Regions from separate parts of the Homo sapiens genome. Here all the other regions are linked to region 3. The links come from fine-mapping of genetic effects on gene expression. A gene starts in region 3. Each other region holds a variant in brackets. All regions are shown on one strand. Distances are from middle to middle. Region 1 overlaps HSDL1 (hydroxysteroid dehydrogenase like 1). Region 2 has its middle 14 kb from the start of MLYCD. Region 3 holds the start of HSDL1 (hydroxysteroid dehydrogenase like 1). Region 4 overlaps MBTPS1 (membrane bound transcription factor peptidase, site 1).

The links. PIP is the estimated chance that this variant, and not a neighbour inherited with it, causes the effect.
Region 1: its variant is the best candidate, but not a certain one, in a credible set for the expression of HSDL1 in cerebellum (GTEx, PIP 0.61).
Region 2: its variant is the best candidate, but not a certain one, in a credible set for the expression of HSDL1 in fibroblasts (GTEx, PIP 0.83).
Region 4: its variant is the best candidate, but not a certain one, in a credible set for the expression of HSDL1 in blood mononuclear cells (TOPMed, PIP 0.73).

What each region holds. Positions count from the first base shown.
Region 1 is chr16:84,120,442-84,126,953 of GRCh38, forward strand. HSDL1 (hydroxysteroid dehydrogenase like 1) reads right to left here. Exons shown (of 6, transcript NM_031463.5): 6 at 1,700-4,287. The coding sequence ends at 4,189. Among named protein-coding and RNA genes, the nearest start is that of MBTPS1-DT, 6.7 kb to the left of the region's middle. The variant C/T (reference allele first, on the strand shown) is at 3,562.
Region 2 is chr16:83,881,784-83,888,295 of GRCh38, forward strand. No RefSeq gene overlaps it. Among named protein-coding and RNA genes, the nearest start is that of MLYCD, 14 kb to the right of the region's middle. The variant T/C (reference allele first, on the strand shown) is at 2,533.
Region 3 is chr16:84,140,776-84,147,163 of GRCh38, forward strand. HSDL1 (hydroxysteroid dehydrogenase like 1) reads right to left here and starts at 4,402. Exons shown (of 6, transcript NM_031463.5): 1 at 4,305-4,402. It overlaps DNAAF1 (dynein axonemal assembly factor 1), which reads left to right and starts at 4,533. Exons shown (of 12, transcript NM_178452.6): 1 at 4,533-4,789. The coding sequence starts at 4,666. RefSeq lists silencers at 3,827-3,876, 3,927-3,976, 4,137-4,586.
Region 4 is chr16:84,108,032-84,113,031 of GRCh38, forward strand. All of the region lies in intron 1 of MBTPS1 (membrane bound transcription factor peptidase, site 1), which reads right to left. Among named protein-coding and RNA genes, the nearest start is that of MBTPS1, 6.4 kb to the right of the region's middle. The variant A/T (reference allele first, on the strand shown) is at 1,929.

The DNA.
Region 1 (6,512 bases), 20 kb before region 3:
CTCGACAACACCGTGACAGCCTGCAGTGCCTACGGTAGTGCTCCCTTATCCGAGGGGACATGTTCCAAGACCTCCGGTGGATGGTCTTGGGACTCACCGTGGCTGGAACTTTGGCAGTTTGAGGTGTGACAGCAAAACTAGCATGAATTTCTTTTTCCTTCTTTCCAATGTCATGGAGAGATTTGTTTTACTGCAGATCTCAGCAACTTCAGCATACAATGTTTTTCTTTCCTTATTAAGTGGAGAAGTTTTACCTTTTCACTTAAAAGAGCACTTTACAGCTTCTTGGTATATCCATAGTGCCAGCATCACTACTCTTGGGCTTTGGGGACATTACGAAGTAAAATAAGGGTTACCTGAACAGAAGCTGTGGACATGGGGAGAATTCCAATCCCAGGCAGGAGGGAGTGGGATGGTGCGAGATGTCATCACACTCCTCAGAACTGTGTGCAATTTAAAACTTATTAACTGTTTATTTATGGAATTTTCCATTGAATATTTTCGGACCTCGATTGATCATAGGTAACTGAAACCTCAGAAAACAAAACTGTGGATAAGCGGAAACTACTGTCCACAAAGCATGATGACACAAGTCCTGCCCCACTGTGTGTTCCCATCCAACTCACTGATGGAGGTCACCCCCCTAAGTATTTCCACAACCACCTGAGCAAACACTTACTGAAGAAGGGTGTCAACGTCACGCCACGGGAAGGCCATGAGCCTGCCCACCCCCTCCCCCGGGAGCACCTGTCTCCATGCCTGCAGCACCATCATCCCGCCCTCAACAGTGGCGCTGTGCGGGGCTGGCCAGAGCACATCGCCCTCGCAGGGGGGCTTGCTGTGGAAGTGGAAGTTCTATTTGTGCACGTTCCAGAGTGGGTTCTAGAGCTGCCTCCCTTCCCTTTCAGTCTCACCATAGGAATTACACAGAATATTTTTTTTTTTTTCTTTTGTGACAAAGTTTTGCTCTGTCTCCCAGGCTGGAGTGTCGTGGTGCGATCTCAGCTCACTGCAACTTCCGCCTCCCGGGTTCAAGTGATTTTCCTGCCTCAGCCTCCTGAGCAACGGGCATTACAGGGGCGCGCCACCACGCCCGGCTAATTTTAGTATTTTTAGTAGAGACGGGGTTTCACTACGTTGGTCAGGCTGGTCTCAAACTCCTGACCTCATGATCCGCCCGCCTCGGCTTCACAAAGTGCTGGTATTACAGGCGTGAGCCACTGCACGCGGCCAGGAATAACAGAGAATATTTCTACTGAATTCACGACTGTCCTGTGCTTGGCTTTATACTCATTAAACATATATGAATTTTTAAAAAGATAAATAACACATAAGCCAATACTGAGACTGAGACATAAATTGACTGGAATAGGTTTTGAGGACATAACCATCTAACCCTCTGGTTCCCAAATGTGATTAGATTTTAAGTAATTGAGGATAGGAAAACACAGGAAAGTCTCCTAGGAGCTGTCTCTATCTGCTCTCTTCCCTTTTTTTCTTCTTCCCACTCTTTCTTGAATCCATTACAATTCTAGCCTGAAGACTGAAATGGCTCATGGAAAAAAATCACCAATGATCTCCATCCACACAGCCAAATTCCATGCTCAAATCAATCCTCACCTTACTCAACCTACCAAGAGAAAGAGATCCAGAAGTCAACCCAGTAGCTTCCAAAGACTAGGCACATAGTTATAAACAATTTTGTTACTGACGTGTCAGCTTTTAATCAGTTATGACCACTGTTGTTCATGTTAATTTCTTGCAATCACTCCTAAGAAAAAAAAATTCTCTCATTCCAAATTACAAACAACCAAATTACAAACATCTGGAACAAAACTCTTCCAAAGGAAACAAACAACTACTTTTATTGTTAAACTTTCAATTCACAGATTAACTTTCAAAGGTTCATATTTCCCACGTTCTTTTTTTTTTTTTGAGACAGGGTCTCGCTCTGTCTCAAGGCTGGAGTGCAGTGGCACGATCTTGGCTCACTTCAACCTCTGCATCCTGGGCTCAAAAAATTCTCCTGCCTCAGCCTCCCAAGTAGCTGGGACTACAGGCATGCACCACCCTGCCTGGCTAATTTTTGTATTTTTTGTAGAGACAGGATGTGTTCCCCAGGCTGGTCTCGACCTCCTGGGATCAAGCGATCCACCTGCCCTGGCCTTCCAAACTGCTGGGATTACAGGTGTGAGCCACCGCACTCGGCCCCTATTTCCCACATTCTTAATGACACCCCATCCACAGTGGTCCAATCAACTTTCAAATTAGCTCTGGGGAAAAAAATACATTTAATGAAAGCTAGAAAACCTAGAGAAGGTCTTGCTCTTCATCTTTCACTGCAGCTATGGACAGCTCGGCACCACATTTGCACCAATCAGCATGTTTGCCCATGTCCTGCCAAGGAGAGAAGTTTACATCATCACTGACAAGGTGTGTTCACCTATTCTCATCACGTAACACTGATGGATTCCATACCTAATTTATCAATCTAAGACATTACTGGACCACGTAACCTTACATATAACTACCTGACCATATTTTCACATGAAGTTGCTGCTGCTTATTATACATCAAAGTTCACGTCAATGTGGCATGAAGTCAAGAGGATTCCAAGCAAACTCCATCAAAACCTTGGGGCTCACAGCATCTCCCAGTGTGTAGATTTTCACATCTAAGTTCTGAAGACATGATCTAAGCGTGGAAGAGCTTCTGAAGTTGACCACTGATCTTCTGAGTGCAAGTCACATCTGGAAATCCTGTAGGCAATGTCATGGGCAAAATTGTGTTCATAAAACTGTGCTTAGGTCTGCTTATGATAGATTATCACGTCACGAAAAAAATGCCACAGAAGTCCAGACTTTTAACCAATCTACTAGCTTCTGCATCAGTATCACAATGCCGAGCTCTGAATTTTAAATGTGCACATATTGTCATATTCATATAGTGACTTAGAGTTTTCAAAGCACTAGGTACATGGTCCTCAAAAATGGTTGGCTTTATATGACCCAAACTAAGGACATTTCACAGGTTTCAATGTTAACGCGTATTGTGAGGGTTTGTGCATAATTATCTTCACACCAGTAAAGGTATTCACTACAATACATAAATTCATTACACAAACCAAGAATAAGCTTCTAACTTATATTGACAGATATGTCACACACGTAATTTGTCCATATTTTACTATTCCATAAATACTTACTATTTCTATCAATAATGCTACTGGAATGGAATAATATTACATAGAAAAACGTAGGAAAACCAGATATAACAAGCTCTAAAGGGCTAAATTTCAGTTATAAAATGGGTCAGAGGCTGAGAAATCACTATTTATCCACAAGAATTGCCTTATAAATCAAAAGATGACTGCAGGTTTCTCTTACATATCCAAATCTAGGAATAAGTTCATTCCATAGCAGATTTGAAAAAACACAAATATAATGTAGGAAGTAATATCATTCATGGCAAACCAACAGCATGAAATTTGGTAGGCTTATTTAGGATGAAAAGGAATAATCTAGATTGTTTTAATACCCTATAAGAGTCCATGTTAAGTCA[C/T]CCTGACAAAAAATCTTTTTAAAAATATGGTAACCATAAATAAAGTTGCTCAAAGGCACCACACACACGCACACACACGGTTCTCTAATGAAATACCAGTTGAAGTGCAGCATTTTCATTACAGATAGTCAAACAGCTAGAGCTATACAATACACACAGATTTTTCCTAATAGTACCAGCAATCTTAGTTACAAAATAATACTTTTCAGTAGTCTTTCTTGATGCACATTTAAAAACCAGCACAACTCCTCTAGTGAAATGGTCAATTTCCCTTAAAAAACAACATCTGAAATTATAAGACCTGACAAATCATATTATATTTCAATATTAGACTGCTGTGGCTCTAGAACAACAGAAAAGCGTAACTTTCAAACAGCTTAGGGAAAAAGCACTGAAATGTAGATGTCGTCAATCAGCCTCAGGCATTATTGATCCTGTGCCATCCACACACCCTTAAGGTTTTTCACAGCACTCTGACGGTATTATGTGTGTTTTGCAAATGACGAATCAACAGTATGCTGAATAATCAGCAATGAAACACAGGAGATAAATTAAATGTGTTTTTCCAAATGTCAGAATATCGAGGTTCCCAGGAGTTGGCAAAACTTCTCAAGTGGCCATCCAGACTCAGGCTGTGCAGGATAAGGCTTCCTTACGTAGTGAACGGTTGAGAATATTTGCTCCCCACACCCAGAGCCATTCAGGCATATACTGTGCAAAAAGAAACTAAAAATGAAAGAGAAAAAGGTTGTAAGGTTAGAACCCAAAATCAACACTGAAGGAACAAGTACACAGACCAGCACATGAAACCCACCAATCACAACAAATACCCACCAATCAATCACAACAAATACCCACCAATCACAACAAATACCCACCAATCAATCACAACAAATACCCACCAATCACAACAAATACCCACCAATCACAACAAATACCCACCAATCAATCATAACAAATACCCACCAATCACAATACACACCAATCAAACAAATACCCACCAATCACAATACCCACCAATCAAACAAATACCCACCAATCACAACAAATACCCACCAAGCAATCACAACAAATACCCACCAATCAATCACAACAAATACCCACCAATCACAACAAATACCCACCAATCACAACAAATACCCACCAAGCAATCACAACAAATACCCACCAATCAATCACAACAAATACCCACCAATCACAACAAATACCCACCAATCACAACAAATACCCACCAATCACAACAAATACCCACCAATCAATCACAACAAATACCCACCAGTCACAACAAATACCCACCAATCACAACAAATACCCACCAATCAATCACAACAAATACCTACCAATCACAAACACCCACCAATCAATCACAATACCCACCAATCAATCACAACAAATACCCACCAATCACATTACCCACCAATCAATCACAATAAATACCCACCAATCACAATACCCACCAATCAATCACAATAAATACCCACCAATCGATCCCAACAAATACCCACCAATCACAATAAATACCCACCGATCAATCACAACAAATACCCACCAATCAATCACAACAAATACCCACCAGTCACAACAAATACCCACCAATCACATTAAATACAACAAAGGAAAAAGCCTCCAGGTACTACTGTACTGAATACCTACTTTTGCCTAAGATCTTACCCTAGATTCTACATGGAACAGAAACATGACCACCACCCACCTACCCGACTTTCTGTAATGAGGCTGGACTGTCCTGCATGTAAATACAATTCTGTCTTTACTTAACGTGATATGAACAAAATGTTCACTGGTTAAGAACCACAAAATCGGCTGGGCACGCTGGCTCATGCCTGTAATCCCAACACTTTGGGAGGCCGAGGCGGGTGGATCATGAGGTCAGGAGATCGAGACCATCCTGGCTAACAGGGTGAAACCCCATCTCTACTAAAAATACAAAAAATTAGCCAGGCGTGGTGGCGGGAGCCTGTAGTCCCAGCTACTCAGGAGGCAGAGGCAGGAAAATGGTGTGAACCGGGGAGGCGGAGCTTGCAGTGAGCCGAGATCGCGGCACTGCACTCCAGCCTGGGCAACAGAGCAAAACTCTGTCTCAAAAAAAAAAAAAAAAACACCACAAAATCATTATAGGAATAAATCAGTTGGAACAGACAGACGCATACGTGGTTAGTACTCTATGAGAAAACTGGGGCTTGAGGGGTAGTATGGAACAAAGTTCAACAAGAAAACAGGTCAGAAACACCAGTACCTTGGGATGGTATCTTGACCTATGATGGGGGTGCTCAGGGGACCAGGGAAGGGAGTCCTGCTGATGCTGCTCTGCTTCAGGGTCTCACTCAGGGCCTTTGTGCTAGCAGCAGACATAGGGCAATGTCTGAAAACAAATTTGGTCGTCACACTGGGAGTGGATGCTACTGGTATCTAGTGGGTGGAGGCCCAGGATGGTGTTCAACATCCTACAATACACAGGACGCTCCCCATGTCAAGGAATTACCTGCTCTCAATGCCAACAGTGCTGAGGTGGAGAAAGCCTACACTCCTCTAACAGATTTGTTCAGAACCGAATGAAAGTTCTAACACCGTGTATACGAAAGAGAAGAGAGACAGGCCCTTGGCAAGTACTGACATTCTAGTCTTGAACTGAACTGATGAATGATAATAGAGGTCATTCAATCCTCTTGTCAATAAATGGACACAGGTTACTCTCCAGGGAGGACACACCCACACCCACACACACACACACTCACGCACTTTGTGAACAAAATCACAGCAGCAAAAGCTATCAGAGAAATATGCCATGGACAAAACAGCAAAGGATGAATCAAATCTTTGATGTAAAATTGGAAATAAAAAATGATAGTGTTGAAAATAATTTGAGTAACATAAAATGAAAACAGAAAGTTTTAACAACTTTATACAGAAAACTACTCCAGGAATTAAATCAG
Region 2 (6,512 bases), 260 kb before region 3:
CCACTCACATAAAAATAAAGAATTTTCCCAGCACCTCAGAAGGCTCCCTTCCCTGTAAATGCACACACCTCCTACAGATGCAGTCACTGTTCCGACGTTGATCATCATAGATTAGTTTTCCTTCATCTTTCCTTTCATGTCAGTGGAACACACGGTGCATAGTCTGTCTGTCTGTTTTCCTTTACTTATCATCGTGTTTATGAGATCCGTCCATGTCGTGTGTACTGGTCACTTGTTCTTTTTTATTGCTGTGTAGTAGTCCATTCAATGAACATACCGCAATTTATCATTCTCCTGTTGATGGACATTGGCTGTTCACCATTTGTGCTAGTACCTAGAAACATTCTAACGTTTGCCTTTCAGAAGTTCACTCCAATTACAAAAAAGTTTAAATCCCCTACAAACAGCCATGTGTTAACTTTTAACAGTACCCAGTTATTTGGGATAAAACTCATAACTGCTTGAAACCCAAAATGCTGGAGGCACCAGCCACTGCTGACAGCCGAGAGAGAGTGTTGAAAAGCTTTGAGCAGGAGAGTGATGCAGTGGTGTCGGATTTCACAAAAAGCATTCAGGCAGCAGCTGAACACCACCATTTCTGTGACTGAACTGATGCCCTTTCTGGGGGGCAGCCATGTGCTTTGGCCATTGAAAACACAGAGGGTGTGATGGAGAAAAGAGAATGCCCACTGTTGTTAGTTTTGCTTTTCACTCCTGCCATCTCTCATTCCATTTGGAGAAAGCCTACAGCTGAAATTAAACTTTCAGCTCTAGGGGCAAATCTGTTTCTCCTTGTCCTGCGTCTGTCAGAAATGATATCCATTCCGCAGACTAATGTCCCTGTACCATGGTGCAAGCACTTCCCTGCCAGCTCCAAAGCCGGGCACCAGGGAGAGCACAGGGCACTGAGTTCTTGCTGTCCACACCCTGTGCAGATGACCAGGGATCAGCCACCTGCCGCTGTCTCCCAAGAAGAGAAGACAGAGCAATGATGGTTTCATCAAAGCCCCTGAAAGGGTGGGCAAAGCTGGCGTAGGCTTGGCGGCTAACAAATGTGAAATGGGAAGTTTTGGGGGCTGTCATTGGAGCCTTTTTTTTTTTTTTTTTTTCCTGAGAAGGAGTCTCACTGTGTCGCCCAGGCCGGAATACAGTGGTACGATGTCAGCTCACTGCAAACTCCGCCTCTTGGGTTCAAGTGATTCTCCTGCCTCAGCCTCCTGAGTAGCTGGGATTACAGGTGCCTGCCACTACACCTGGCTAATTTTTGTATTTTTAGTAGAGACGGGGTTTCACCATGTTGGCCAGGCTGATCTTGAACTCCTGACCTCAGGTGATCTGCCTGCCTTGGCCTCCCAAAATGCTGGGATTACAGGTGTGAGTCACCACGCATGGCCCATTAGAGCCATTTATATGGTGTATCAGTTCCCACTGCCTTTGGAAGGAACTGCCTCTGGCCACAGCCGATTGGATCAGAGCTAGACACTTGGTTCTGAAGCCGGAAACAAGGTTCAGAGCTGCTTCTCAGCCCCTGCTGGTTCTTCTCTCACACATGAGCTGGGAGAGCGAGAGGGCCTTGAGCTGCCTCTCATCCAATAGGCAAGGTGTGCATGGTCCCAGTCACTAACTGCATCCCAAGTAACTACTGTCCTGACCCCTGACAGCAGAGGTTTTGACAATTTTTGAACTTTATATCATGATATCACACAGAATAGGCTCTCTTGTGTCTGGCCACCTTCACACCATCATCTGTTTGGAGATGCATCCTATGGCTGTGTAGGTTGAGACTTCATTCTCGTTGCCTTGGACTGCTCCACCGTGTGAACGTGCCATGCTTTATTTATGCATTTTGCCATTGATGGATGTGAGAGTAGGCGGAGTGTGTGATGTGATTCTAACCAATAGAATACAGTGGGTATGATGGAATCCACTCACAGTTACATTACACAGGACTGTGACCTCCACCTTTCAAGAGCACTTTCCCCCTTGCAGGCCTTGTTAGAGCAAGTGGCATGTTGGGGAGGCCCCTGTGGCAAGGAAGTGAAGGCGGCCTCCAGTTCACATCCAGAAAGAAACTGAGGCCGTCAGTTTTATAGCCACAAGGAACTGAATTCTGCCAAGCACATGTGAACTTGGAAGTGGACCCTACACCTGCTGAACCTGGAAATGAGACTACTGCCTAGCAGACACCTTGCAATTGTGTTTACAATAGGATTCCAACATATGAAATCCTAACCCCCAAGGTGATGGTATTAGGAAATGGGGTCTTTGGGAGGTGATGAGGTCATGAGGGTGGAGCCTTCATGAATGGGATCAGCGTCCTTATAAAAGAGGCCCGAAAGAGACCCCTTATCCCTTCCACCATGTAGGGACACAGCTAGTAGTTGCCATCTATGAACCAGAAAGTGGACCCTCATTACACACCGAGTCTGCAGCTGCCTCGATATTGGATTCCTCAGCCTCCATAACTGTGAGCAATAAATTTCTATTGTTTATAAGCCACCCAGTCTGTGGTATTGTGTACAGCAGCCTGCA[T/C]GGACTGCAGCTTTGTGAGATTCGGAAGCAGAGTCCACGACCTAACTCCTGATTCACAGAAACCGTGAGGTCAAAAATATGTGTTGTTTTAATCTGTTAATTTTGTGGCAATTTGTTATGTAGCAATATAAAACTAACACAACGGACATTTGGATAGTATCCAGATCTGGGCTTTTAAACCCTGGGCTACCATGAACATTCTAGTGCATGTCTGTGGAAGCCAAACCGACTCTATCTTGGATGCTAGTCTACCACGTTGGCTTGTGATTAACCCCTGTTCTGGGAAGGTCTTTAAGATTTCAAGTGTATCTATTGTTCCTTGTGTGAGACCAGGTCCTTGCCATGAATCCTGCCCTTAGCCAGGCAACGCTGATGTTGTAGTACTTCAATTGTCCCACACAACCCTTCAGAACTACCCCTCCCCTATGGTGTATAAGCCCTGGATCTCAGCAGCAGTGGCACAGGGATCCACCATCTTGTCCCACTGCCACCCAAGACACAGACATGTCTTCTGTTCCTAAGTCCCTATTAAATGTTTCTTACTAAGACACTGGATTTGTCAGCCTTTTTCTTAGGCTTCTTGGCTTCCTTGCACTTTGGGGTAGGTTTGCACAGCCCTGCCCACCGCAAAACATGTATTTTGGTGAATATACATATATATTCATGTTTGGTATATACCTTGGAGGGAGCTGCTGGGACATAGGAATGCATATGTTCAGCTTTAGTGGATTCTGCCAACAGTTTTACAAACCAAGTTACATTTACATGGGTAAAGATGGGATTCAAACCCAAGTCTGCCCAGCTCGGAATCAATGTCATAGCCTGTGTAAAGATTTGGGATGGGCTAAGGAGATACAAGGATGACTTCTCTTTCCTTGGCACTGATTGAATATGTCTTTATAACTATGTTGAGACTGGCCAGGAGCCAGTATCTCATGCACAGTCATTTCTGCTTATTTAGCATGAGGGGTCTCATAATTTTGAGTTTCATAGTCTCATAATATTAATCCTAAACCTCAGAAGCACCCTCTGTTTTTCTTATCCACAAATATTGGGAGGGCGTCTTAGAATGGATTCTCATCACAATTTAATTAGAAAGGAAATGTTTAAATTGCTACATATGTATTTCCAGGCAGCTCGGAACTGGCCCGTATCTGTAATCTCACTGAGCATACAAAACGGTAACAAATGCGAATGGAACACCTACTATGCTGAGCTCCCACAGAATAGTAAAGCTGCAGAAGGATTATGAAAAATGACAGGCCCCACGCTCACATACCACAGCCCACATGGTACTTGTGCCAGCTATTTATTGCTCGGTAACCAATCAGCCCAAAACTTAGTGACTTAAAACAACAATATTTTGTCTCTCAGGGTCTCAGTGGATCAGGAATTCAGGATGAGTTAGGCTTAGGGTCTCTCGTGTGGTCTTAGTCCAATGATGGCTGGAAGTAGAATCCCAAGGAATTGGAGTTCATGAGGGCTGATCAGTCTCTCTCTCTCTCTCTCTCTCTCAGGGCCTCTCCACGTGGTCTCTTCATGTGGGCTACTTTCGGCTTCCTCACAGTGTGGCATCCTCAGGGGAGCTGAGCTTACTGCTTATTAAGTGGTAGCTGAAAGCTTCAAGAGTGAGGGTTCTAGCAAACAATGTGCAAGCTGCATTGCCTTTTATAGCTTTATCCTGGAGGTCACGCAGCATCACTTCTGCAATGTTCTGTTTGTCACAAGCAAGCAAAAGGCTGTGTCAGATGCGTCCCCTGGGAAGCAGACACCGAGATGGGAGTTAGGAGTCAAGAAGTTGATTGGGAGTCATACCTGAGACAGAGAACGGGAGGAGGAAGCAGAAGGAGGCTGGAAAGGCCTTCAGGACACAGTGTGGCTCTAACAGCTGTAAAGGGAAAGGAGGGGACACGGGATGGTGCAGGAGAGTCTCAGGTGGCAGCATAGATCAGACAGGGTCTTGGCCAACCCACTTCATGCTCTGGGACAAAGAGTCCCATGATGAACAGAAACAGCCAGGCCCTAGACCCCTGCCCTGCTTAGTCATTGGCTGAGACTGTCCAGAAAGAGAGTGGCCTTGGCTTGAAGGCGAAGACACACCCTGGTGGTGCTAACAGGTGCAGACCACACTTACAGCTGAAAAGTAACTCTTTTCTTGAAGGGAGACCTGAGCGGTGAAATCCTCAGCTACCAAACAAGCCCACCCAGATTCAGGGGAAGAGAGTTAGGTTCCACCCTCTGATGGGGAATTGGCGAGATTGTAGAAGAACACGTGGGACAAGAATTGATTCTAGGAAAATTCCAAATTCTTTGGAACCTAAAATGTGCTATAACACGCAAACATAGCTTGAGCACAGAACGGTGCGTAGGTTGGAGATGAACGTCTTAGGCCTTGGAATCGGCCGGAAATTGGTTCAAGTCTTGGCATGTCCACTGACTAGCTGTGTGACCTTAGGCAAGTTACTTAACCTATCTGAGCCTTAGTTTTCTCATCTGTAAGACTGACAACAGAGTAAAGCCCATCCTTCATGGGTTACTCTGAGAATAAAATGTGATCATACATGTCAAAGTTTAGCACCGTGCCTAACATGTAGTCAGTGTTCAGGAGGGAAAGTACGTCATTATTATTTACTGAGTAGCAAGAAAATCATAACAGTCCAAGACCACTTAGTCTAAGCAATAAGTGACCCACTGTGTCAACGCAGGAGCCCCCAGGAGCATGACGAAGTGCATCCCGTACAATACGGATTTATTCCCAACAAACAGTTTCACACTAACTCGGGTTTGGTGAGGACACTGAGTTATCAAGAAGATATTGACTTGTATTTATTATAGATATTAAATCAGAAATTGTGAGCTTTTATAAACACAGAACAGAAGTCATTGCTCGACACTCTGAGCTCTTTAAAAGCAGGAATTGTGCTTTATTTGTTCTTGTAACACCAGGGCCAACAGCTGGCACGGAGTCATTGCGCCCCAAATGTTCATGGCATTGAATTGCATCTAATAAAGATAAAACTTGGCTTGCTGGAAGATGCGTCGATTCATAACATCTTATGATGCTAGATAAATATAGGTTCTTTTTCTTATCCAAAATGGAAATGGGAAAAAATATGACTCGTTCTTATTATTAAAAGTTATGCATGCTCGTTGTAATTTAAAAAACCCAGGCAACTCAAAAATATGTTTAAAAGACAGTTTTAAAAAACCCATCGCCCAGAAATAACTTCTGTTCACATTTTGGTGAACCTTCTTTCAGAGTGCTTTTCTAAAAAAATTAAAATAGCATCATGGTATAATGTCTTGTAACTCAATATTTTTCACGTGGCAACATACGGCCACCAGATGAGTGAAAGCTGACACAGACATCAGCGGGGAATTCAGAAGGAGGGAGGAAGACAAAGACTGCACTGCTGTTCTCTCGTCCTTTGCATGACCACCATTGTGTGGGCTGCTGGCTGTCCTTACAGGCTTAGCTGACGCTGCAGCCGCCCACCCTCCATGCTTGGACATGCTTGGATCTCTGACCCGGAAGCCCGTCCCTGTCCAGCTCAGCTCTCCCCTCTCAGTCCTATGAGCCATTGTCTCCCACAAGGTCTCTTATTGGTCATCCCTGACCACAGCATCACATACTCTTCTCCCCACCTCAGCTGAAGGGTCTTCGACTCCCTTCCCTTCTTCTCATCTCTGATAAGCAGGAGGACTAACACCACTGGGTCCCTGGGTCCCCAGCACTGTTTCAAGAAGTTTACATAAAATATCCCAATTAATTTTCCACAACTGCTCTAAGGAAGTTAGAGGGAGATGCTGTCACCAGCATGCCCATTTTACAGATTAGGAAGTTGAGACTAGAGAGATTAAGTACCTTGCCTACTGTTACAGCAAGCAAGTGATGGATCTAGGAATGGACACAGAATGAACAGGAAGGAAAGGAGACTCAGTGTCTCTCCCCTGACCACTTAACCACTGTCCTCAATTAC
Region 3 (6,388 bases):
AGCTGTATACCCCAAGCATGTATTCTGAAACAGTAACAGTATTGCTGGCCGGGCGCGGTGGCTCACGCCTGTAATCCCAGCACTTTGGGAGGCCGAGGCGGGCGGATCACGAGGTCAGGAGATCGAGACCACGGTGAAACCCCGTCTCTACTAAAAATACAAAAAATTAGCCGGGCGCAGTGGTGGGCGCCTGTAGTCCCAGCTACTCGGGAGGCTGAGGCAGGAGAATGGCGTGAACCCGGAAGGCGGAGCTTGCAGTGAGCGGAGATCGCGCCACAGCACTCCCGCCTGGGCGACAGAACGAGACTCCGTCTCAAACAAAAAAAAAAACAGTATTGCTAAGTTTCGCCTGGTTTTGAACCTCACATAAAGGAACCACACCACATGGACCCTTTGGTGACTTGTTTCTTTCACTCAACATCATTCCCGAGACTCATCCATGCCCCTGCAGCTATATAGTCCATCCTCCTCGGCAGCTGCACAGTATCTCACGGTTCAGATGCACTGCAGTTCACAGGTCCCCCTGCTGCTGGTTCAGATACACCACGATTCACAGGTCCCCCTGCTGCTGGTTCAGATACACCACGATTCACAGGTCCCCCTGCTGCTGGTTCAGATACACCACGATTCACAGGTCCCCCTGCTGCTGGTGCTAGGCACGTGCACTGTTTCTGCTGGTTTTGATTTACAGTTAGGAACAGTGCTGCAGGGAGCGCTTGTCCCCATCTCCTGCACACCTGTGCAAGAGTTCGCAAAGGGATTTGCCCATGGTTTAACTGCTGGTCCACATGCATTCCACTGCCAAATGCTTTTGCAAAGCGGCAGAACCCATTCACACTCCCGCCAGCAGCAGGTTCGTGCCACTCCTCAATGTCACTGGCTGGTAGCGTCCAAAGCTTCACCTTCTGCCAACAGGGTGGCTGTGAAATGGTATCTCATTATGGTTTTAATTTACATTTCCCTGGTTACTAGTAAGGCTGCAGTCCTTTTTATATGTATGTGCTTTCTGTGTTTTGTAATCTATGAAATGCCCGTTCCTATCTTTTGTCCTTTCCTTTTTTTTCTCTCAGAATTGTAAGAATTCTTTAAATATTCTAGATACTAGCTCTCTGTATGTTTTGTGTCTCATTATAGTGTCTTTCATGAACTAAATGTGTTGTTATTATTATTGAGACAAGGTCTGGCTCTATTGCCCAGCCTGATGTGCAGTGGCATGATCACAGCTCACTGCAACCTCCGCCTTCCGGGCTCAAGCCATCCTCCCACCTCAGCATCTCAAGTAGCTGGGACACAGGCATGTACCACCAAGCCCAGTTAAATTTTTTTTGTGTGTGTAGAGATGAGGTTTCACCATGTTGCCCAGGCTGGTCTCAAACTCGTAAGCTCAAACCATTCACCTGCCTTGGCCTCCCAAAGTGCTGGGATTACAGGTGGGAGCCACTGCACCTGGCTGAATGTCTTAATTTTGAAAGAGACAAATATATCAATCTTTCTGCTTTAGGGTTTGTTTTATTTCAGAAATCCCTCCTTAGCCTCAGGTCATGAAGAAATTTTTTCGAATTATTTTCTAGAAATTTTACATTTTTGCTTTTTCAGTTTAAGTCTTTAATCCTCCTGGCGTTTTGTGATGGTGTGAGGCTGGGATCTCACACATCTTTTTTTTTTTTTTTTTTTTTTTGAGACAGAGTCTCACTCTGTCACCCAGGCTGGAGTGCAATGGCGCGATCTTAGCTCACTGCAACCTCCTCCTTCCAAGTTCAAGCAATTCTTCTGCCTCAGCCTCCCAAGTAACTGGGACTACAGGCGTGTGCCACCATGCCTGGCTAATTTTTGTATTTTTTTCTTTTTTAGTAGAGACGGGGGTTTCACCATATTGGCCAGGCTGGTCTTGAACTCCTGACCTTGTGATCCGCCCACTTTGGCCTCCCAAAGCACTGGGATGTGACCGGCCGGATCTCACACATCTTTAATATTCCTCCTCAGCACCTGACATGCTGCTGTAGACAACTTTATTTAATAAACAGAATCAAATACTGCTTTGTGTTCAAAGCTCAAATTTCACTCTTGAGAAAAAAACTTAAGCTTTTCATACTCTGCGTCAGCACTATGACAAAGTTAGCATTGGTGTATCAAGACTTTTTGGGATGTCTTTACCTTCACTGCCAATTTTTGGTATAGGACTAAACGCACAATGAAGCTGAGCCTAAAGAGCAGCAACATGGAATTAGAAACCTGGATTCTCATCCAAGATCCAACACTCTTCACCATCATGTCTGTATTTATGCAGTAAGAATTAAAATATTCAGAGTACCCCACTCCTAGGCAGATACCCAAGATAATTAGAAACTTTTGCTCACATAAAAACTCCTGCTTGCATGTTCACAGTGGCCTACTCACAACTGCCAGAAGGCAGAAACAAACAAAATGTCCATCAACAAATGAATGAATAAGCAAAATGTGGTGTTATCCACACAAAGGAGTATTATTCAGCCATAAAAAAGCATGAAGTACTGATACATACTACAACATGGATAAACTTTGAAAACATTATGCTAAAGGACAGAAACCAAATACAAAAGGCCGTATGTTGTATGTTTCCACTTGTATGAAATGTCCAGCATAAGCAAATCCATAGAGACAGAAGATAACTTAGGGCTGCTGAGGGACAGGGGGAGAAAAGAGGTATGACTGTTAATGGGGTTGGGGTTTCTTTTGTAGGTGATTAAATGTTCTGGAATTAGTTACTGGTGATGGTTGCATAGCATTGTGACTATAGCAAGAACTACTGAGTTATACACTGTAAAATGGCTAAAATGATAAATTTTATGTCATGCGTAAGTCATTTCGATTTTTGAAAACCTACTTTAAAAAAAAGTAGCACCAATATGTTCAACTCTGTTGCCCTAGAATATTCCAGCAGTGATTAAAACCACAAACTTGGCCGGGTACAGTGGCTCATGTCTGTAACCCCAGAACTTTGGGAGGCCAAGGCGGGCAGATCACTTGAGGCCAGGAGTTCAAGGCTACCCTGACCAACACAGCGAAACCCCGTCTCTACTAAAAAAAAAAAAAAAAAAATTAGCTGGGTGTGGTAGAACGTGCCTGTAATCCCAGCTACTCGGAAGGCTGAGGCAGGAGAATCACTTGGGCCCGGGGTGCGGGATGGCGGGCAGAGGTAGCAGGAGCTGAGATCGCAGGCACCATTGCACTACAGCCCGGGCGACAGAGCGAGATTGTCTGAATCAATCAATCAATCAACACCCTCCCCCTCCCCCTCCCTCTCCCTCTCCCTCCCTCCCTCTCTCTCTCTCTCTCTCTCCTGTGGCGGTCAGAGTAAAATTGAGAGCTCACTTTATGCAAAAGACTCTGCTAAGTGCTTTATTCCTATTGTCTCACTTTATTCTCTCATTAATCTTATAAAGCGCAGTCAGACTCTCCCGTTTATAGATGGGGAAATTGAGTCTTATAGATGTAAAGTCGCACACCCAAGACCCCACAACTCAGAAAGGGGCTACCTGCAATTCAGATGGAGGTATAGCAAGGCGCAGAGTCCTGTCCAGGGAGCCCACTGTGAGACCCCCCGACTGCCTCGCAGTCACCTGTACACATCATGTTGGGATCGCCGAGGGGCGCTGCAGCGATCCGGTTTCTGGGGCTGCGTCTGGGTGGCACGTTCAGAACGGGGACCTGCCTGGTTCTTCTTCCCAGCCCTTCCCCTCCAGCACCCGGCAAGGCCCAGTCAACACGAGCAAACTCGGAAATCCTGGCTGAACCCACGACCGCTGCATATTTCCATTTTAGAAAAACACGGCAACAACAACTCAAACCAAATCGTTCAGAAATGAGAATAAAGAAGCACCGACAAAGGAGGCGATTGCTGGGGCCGCTCGGGGGAGGAGCCGGGTGAGAGGCTGCAGGGAGGGCAGGGCATGCGCCGGCGACAACGGGGTTCGCGGTTTGGGGGGCAAGGCCCGGGGGAAGAGAGAGAACAGGGGTGCAGCGCCGCGGCGGGGGGCGTGAGGATGGAGCCGGGGGAAGGGGGGCTCTGAGATGTGAAGGGGCGGGGCTGGGGCTTTTTGGTCTGAAGGAAGGAGTCTCACGGGACGGAGGGACGAAGATTTCCTGGGGTCAGGGGCGCCAAGGGGCTTCGGGGCCGGATGCAGCGGAGGGGGCCCGGGGCCTGGGGGGCGTGGTGAGAGCTCAGAGGGGTCTCGCCAAGCAGCCGGCTGGCGCTGAGGGGACCGAGGAGGGGTCTGGGGCGAAAGGACCGCGAGAGGGCGCCCAGGGCGCGGGGGGCGCGGTACCTGCAGGCCGGCAAAGTCTTCCAAACCGGTCCCGCCAGACCCGCGCGGCCGCCGCCCCCGTCTCGGCCGCCGGAGCTGCTGCCGCGCCGCGCCCTCACGTGACCCGCGTACGCGCCGGGGGCGGAGCCGTCTCAGACCCGCCCCCACCCCCCGGCGTCCCCAGCGCGCCGGTCCGTCCCGAGTGCGCGTGCGCAGCGGTTGCCTGGGCGACCGGGGAAGCGTTGGGCTGTAAAGACTAGGGCGCCAGCGGCTGGCGAAGAAGGAAAGAGGGTACTCTCTGGCTGGGCTGGGGCCGTAGCGACGTCCGCCGCGAACCTGGGCCCCCCAAAGCTGCGGGGCGTTCGGTGTCGCCGAAGTAAACATGCACCCTGAGCCCTCGGAGCCTGCGACAGGTGGTGCAGCAGAGCTGGATTGCGCGCAGGAGCCCGGCGTGGAGGAGTCTGCGGGTGACCACGGGAGCGCAGGCCGAGGGGGCTGCAAGGAAGGTGCCGACTGCCCCCCAGGGAGGGCGGTGGGCGAGGGGCAGACACGGCTAGGCGCTCCAGCCCCCTTCCCACACCACATACCCGATCTTCACAGCCAAATAATAACAATAATAATAATGGTAGCAAGCAACGCTCTGCAGTAGGGGCTTCTCTCGCCATTTCGTACTGAGGAGGAAACATACTTAAGAGGTTACAAAACTTGCACCAAACAGATAACCCTCGGCTAGTCAGTGACAGAAGAGACTTGGCCGGGTGCGGTGGCTCAACGCCTGTAATTCCAGCACTTTGGGAGGCCGAGGCGGGCGGATCATCAGGTCAGTCAGGAGTTCGAGACCAGCCTGGCCAACATAGTGAAACCCTGTCTCTACTAAAAATACAAAAAATGAGCTGGGCGTGGTGGCGGGCGCCTGTAGTCTCAGCTACTTGGGAGGCTGAGGCAGGAGAATCGCTTGAACCCGGGAGGCGGAGGTTGCAGTGAGCCAAGATCTCGCCATTGCATTCCAGCCCGGACGACAGTGGGAGACTCCGTCTCAAACAAACAAACAAACAAACAAGCAAACAAAACCCACCAGACTCAGGCCCAGACAGTCTGGGTCTCCAGAGCCCCAGCCCTAACCCACCACGCTATTCTCCCTGGTCCCAACTTTGATGCTTTAAATGTGTCCCTTTATTGCTATCACTATGTAAGATCAAAGGCTTTCTCTCCCTCCAGACTGCATGTTGTGTCAGGGCAAGACATCTTGATTGAATTTGGAGTCTAGTCCAGTGCCTGACCTAGGGTAGAGAGTCCGAATGAAGACTTGGTTCTGGGGTCAGTGTGTGATCCCCTCACCAAAGTTTGCCAGAATGGACTTGAAAGATAACCTTCATGGCCAGGCACGGTGGCTCACGCCTGTAATCCCAGCAATTTGGGAGGCAGAGGCAGGTGGGTCACCTGAAGTCAGGAGTTCGAGACCAGTCTGGCCAACATATTGAAACCCTGTCTTTGCTAAAAACACAAAAATTAGCAGGGCGTGGTGACGTGCTCCTGTAATTCCACTTACTTGGGAGGCTAAGGCAGGAGAATTCCCTGAACCCCGGAGGCAGAGGTTGCAGTGAGCCAAGGGGGAGGCTGAGGCTGCAGTGAGCCAAGATCACACCACTGCACCCCAGCCTGGGCAATGGAGCAAGACTCCGTCTCAAAAAAAAAAAAGGAAAGAAGGAAGCCTGGCTTCAGCTTCTGCTCCCACTAGACTTGGTGCCCTAAAGGAAACCTTTTAGTGATTACATTAAAAAACCACTTGATTTGTGTTCCAGTTTCTGAACGCAGGCAACAAATAAACCAGCTGATTTGTGTTCCAGGCAACAAATATATCTTAAGCATCAACTGTCCAGATGAACCTTGTATGAGGAGCCATAGGGAACTGGCATTACTCAGTGGAAAGACACTGGTCTTGGAGCCATTGACACTGGGTTCAAGTTGAGGCTCAGCAGCTGGCCAGCTTTATGGCTGTTGGCCCAGAGCTTAACCTCTCGGAGCCTTAGTCTCCTCATCTGTAAGCTGGAATAATTATACAGGAGTATAAGGAGAGAATTATAATTAAATGTCCCAGCATATAG
Region 4 (5,000 bases), 33 kb before region 3:
AGACTCACTAGACAAGTCAGTGAGGCTTTGCAAGCACAGACTGCACTTTCCAGGGTCTAATACATCTATTCAGCTGTGACGAATGGTCCCTCCTGGTTCTCACTATACAATGCAAACCCGATGGGCACACTTCCCAAGATGGGCTCACCACTGAGAGGTAAGCAGACAAGCAGCAGCAGGACAGGCAGACAGAGCATGCACACACAGATACAGACACACAAACCTAAGGAAAAGCACTGTTTTCTTCTTTTTAGATGGAGTCTCACTTTGCTGCCCAGGCTGGAGTGCAATGGCACGACCTCTGCTCACTGCAACCTCCAACTCCCAGCTGAAGCGATTCTCCTGCCTCAGCCTCCTGAGTAGCTGGAATTACAGGCACACGCCACCACACCCAGCTAATTTTTGTATTTTTAGTAGAGACAGGATTTTGCCATGCTGGCCAGGCTGGTCTCGAACTCCTGACCTCAGGTGATCCAGCACCTGCCTCAGCCTCCCAAAGTGCTGGGATTACAGGTGTGAGCCACTGCGCCCAGCCCAAGAAAAGCACTTTCTAAAGAGTGCTAACTCTGCCTTTTCTTCTTCCCTTCCTGAAGAATTCTGCTGAAGACAAGAAGGCAGGCGTTCATGGGAGAATGGCAGAAGCCCACTACAGGGTCTTAAGAGTCTGAGCGGAGTGAGGAAGGTATGTGAAGGGAGAGGCACCAGGTGAGGGGGTCAGAGCCTGGCAAGTGAAGAAGGCACCAGGCAGGCAGTGGGGTGATAGCAGTGAAGGTAAAACTGTTTGATCAAATAAATATTTTACATATAATGGGATGCGGCTTTCTTACTGTCAGAGAAGAAAGTTAGAAATATGAAAGAGAAAAAATAAATGAACCATTCAGTATCAGAACAAAATGATAAATGCTGGTCTGAATTTAAGGTTTTCAATACATAGACTAACAGATGTAGAAAGAAAGAAATCTAAGTGCACGTGTACGTGCTACACACATTTCCTAGCTATCTCCAAAAGGGTGTGGCAGCAGTGAAATCCCAACAGCAAGGAGCCCACCTACTGCCCACAATTGGTTCTAAATATCACTCTCCACTAAAAGAACCTAGGCTCTTTGGACAAAGAACTAGTTCCAGTCTGGGTACGGTAAGAACAAGATGGGTTTGGAACAGTGTCACTCAATGAGGAAAGGCTCACAGAATGATGGGGAAGTGTCCAAGGAACATGGAAGCCAGTTTGGTGGGGCCCCCACTAACAAAATCCGGGACAATCTGAGCATCACGATAAATAATAACAGATCCCAACCCGTGGAATAAAACAGGAAAACAGGAGTCCACAATGACATGAAGTTTGAAAAAGAATGAGATATTTACATCATGTCAAAATGCCCAACTGCCAACAAAATATCTCTTTTCAAAGGGAAAAGTCATTTTACAGTGGAGAAGCTCCACCAAGTTGTCCAAGGGAAGCAGTAATGGGACACACGGAGCCAGGTCTACGAGAGCAGATGCACTGAGAAGAGCCGGCATCACTTCTGGGAGGTTCCTGACAAAGATGCACAACCTGAAATCAAATCATGAGAAACATCAGACCAACCCAAATTGAGGGACATTCTACAGAATCAACTGGCCTAGAATTTTCCTAAGCACCAAGGTAATGAAAGGCAAGAATGACTGAGCTACTGCCCCAGATTGAAGGAGACTCCAGAGTCAGTGCAACTCATGAATCCAAACTGGATCCATCTGCTGTAACAGGCACTCAGGGACAACTGGCAAAACCCAAGTAAGCCTGCCCGTGGATCAGATGGTAGTGATGTATCAAGACTAATTTCCTGATTTTGACAACTGTGCTGTGATTATGTAAGAAGGTCCTTGCTTGGAAAATACACCCACTAAAACACCGGGGGATAATGGAGTATCAGGTCTGCAATTTACTCTCA[A/T]ATGCTTTAGAGAAAAAATGGTTTCATACTGTTCGTGCAACCTTCCTGTTAGGTTCAGCCTGTTTCCAAAACAGGCAGAAAAAATAAGTTCTTTATTTACCCTCACCTGCCAAGGACGCATGAGGCTGGGCTATTTTAAATGTGGTGACAGGCACATTCTAAGCCTCTTATTCAGATTCAGTCAGTGCTGATCACTGCATACATAACCAGACCACACACGTCAGACAGATTTACACTCATCAATTGTTACGTAGAAGGACATCCAAAGATGGGACTGAGCTAGTTAAAGGGAAACTAAAAGCATATCTCATTCTAGGAAATTGACAGAATTCCTGAAAGGATTCATGGTAAATTTCTGCTAACATTAACCTGTGTTTCTATGATTTACATTAAACAAATCAAGTAACATTTTGACAGAAAAACCTGAGGCACCCCCTCTAGAATAAAAATTATGTTTATTAAGTTAACAAATCCAATAAAATAAGTACTCTCATATGTTGCTGGTGAATATTAAAAAAAAACAACCTTTTAGAATGGCAATTTTCACATATGTATTAAAACGCTTAAAAATGAACATTAAAAACTTTTCGTCTAACAAATCCAAAATAAGAAAAACACTCACTGAGCATTTATGATGTAGCAGGTGCCATTCTAAGTAGTCTGCAAATATTAACTAATTTAATCCTCCCAACAACCCGTTACTACCCCCACTTTCAGATGAGAACTGAGACCCAGAGTAGCTAAGCAACTTGCCTGGGGCCACAACACCAGCAAGTAGAACAGCTGGGCTGAGAACTCAGGTGGTCAGCCTGGCTCCAGAGGCCACACTCTTCAGAGGCAGGTCGCCTGCTTTCCTAAAATCTCCCCTAGGGATTCAATCCAAGAAGTATGAATCTGGAAGCACATAAGGCTTTATGTCCAAAGATACACACTGCAAGATTATGAGCAGGAAAAGCTGGAGACCATCTGAATGTGCATAAACAAGGAGACTGGCTCAATAATTATGGTCGGTGCACACCACAGAACGCCACGCAGCAATTTCAAATGCTCCTCCTGCAGTAGGCTGAAAAATGGTCCCCACAAAGATGCTCACATCCTCATTCCTAGAACCTGGGAATGTTACTTTACACACAAAAGCATACAGGCCAAAGGGACTTTGCAGCTGTGACTAAATGAAGGCACTGAGACAGTATCCTCGGTGATCCAGGTGGGCCAGGTGTCATCACAAGGGTGTCTATAAGAGAGAGGCAGGAGATGACAACAGGTAGTAATAGATGTGATGATGAAAGCAACAGGCTGGCTGGGCACAGTGGCTCACGCCTGTAATCCCAGCACTGTGGGAGGCCAAGTCGGGCAGATCACCTGAGGTCAGGCGTTCGAGACCAGCCTGGCCAACATGGTGAAACCCCGTCTCTACAAAAAATACAAAAATTAGCTAGGTAATGGTGGTGGGTGCCTGTAATCCTAGCTACCCGGAAGGCTGAGGCAGGAGAATCACTTGAACCCGGGAGGCAGAGGTTGCAGTGAGCCAAGACTGTGCCACTGCACTCCAGCCTGGGCAACAGAGAGAGACTCCATCTCAAAAAAAAAAAAGAAAAAAGAAAGCAATCAAGAGGTTGAGATAATTTGAGGAAGAAGTCAGGAGCCAAGGAACGCAGGTGGCCTGTAGAAACTGAAAAACAAAAGGAAACTGATTCTCTCCACAGAGCCTCCAGACGGAGACAACCCTGCTGAAACTTTGACTTGAGCTCAGTGAGGCGGATTCTGGACTTCTGATATCCAGAACTGTGAGACAGTAAATTCATGTTGTTCTAGGCCACTGTTTGTGGTCATTTGTTACAATAGAAATATGGGGAAATGCTAATGAAATGTTAAGTAAAACAGTTCATGCACCACATAATCCAAATTTTTACATTTCAATTTTAAAATGTGTCTATGAGCAAAAAAAAAAAAAAATGCAGCTGGGTGCGGTGGCTCATTCCTGTAATCCCAGCACTTTGGGAAGCCAAGGCAGGCGGATCACTTGAGGCCAGGAGTTCAAGACCAGCCTGGCCAACATAGCAAAACCCTGTCTCTACTAAAAATACAAAAAATTAGCTGTGCATGGTGACACATGCCTGTAATCCCAGCTACTCAGGAGGCTGAGGCAGGAGAATCGCTTGAACCAAGGAGGTGGAGGTTGCAGTGGGCGGAGATAAAGCCACTGCATTCCAGCCTGGGCAATGGAGAGACTGTCTCAAATGGAAACAATGACAACAAAAAAAACCACTGAAAGACACATACCAAAATGGTTACAGTGGTTCTACCTTTCAATTGTATGATTACAGATAGTTAATTTCTGCTTTAATTTATTTGTTTATAGGGAGCATATGTTACTTTTATACTTAGATAAAACATATTTTAGTATTTTTAAAAACTTTTCAAATAAATTGGTTCACTCCTGTAATCCCGGCACTTTGGGAGGCCGAGGCAGGCGGATCATGAGGTCAGGAGATCGAGACCATCCTGGCTAACACACTGAAACCCCGTTTCCACTAAAAAATACAAAAAAAATTAGCTGGGCGTGGTGGTGGGCTCCTGTAGTCCCAGATACTCAGGAGGCTGAGACATGAGAATGGCGTGAATCTGGGAGGCGGAGCTTCCAGGGAGCTGAGATCACGCCACTGCACTCCAGCCCGGGCAACAGAGCGAGACTCGGTCTCAAAAAAAACAAAAAAAAACAAAAAAAGAATACGCCGGGCTCGGTGGCTCACAGCTATAACCCCAGCACTGTGGGAGGCCGAGACGGGCAGATCACCCGAGGTCAGGAGTTCAAGACCAGCCTGGCCAACATGGTGAAACCCCATCTCTACTAAAAATACAAAAATTAGCTGGGTGTGGTGGCACACACCTGTAATCCCAGCTACTCAGGAGGTTGAGGTGGGAGAATCGCTTGAACCTGGGAGACAGAGGTTGCAGTGAGCTGAGATCAAGCCACTGCACTCCAGCCTGGGAGACAGAGCGAGATGCCATCTCAAAAAAAAAAAAAAAAAAAAGAATAAATCATACTTTCTGGTAAGAGAGTGGCACAAA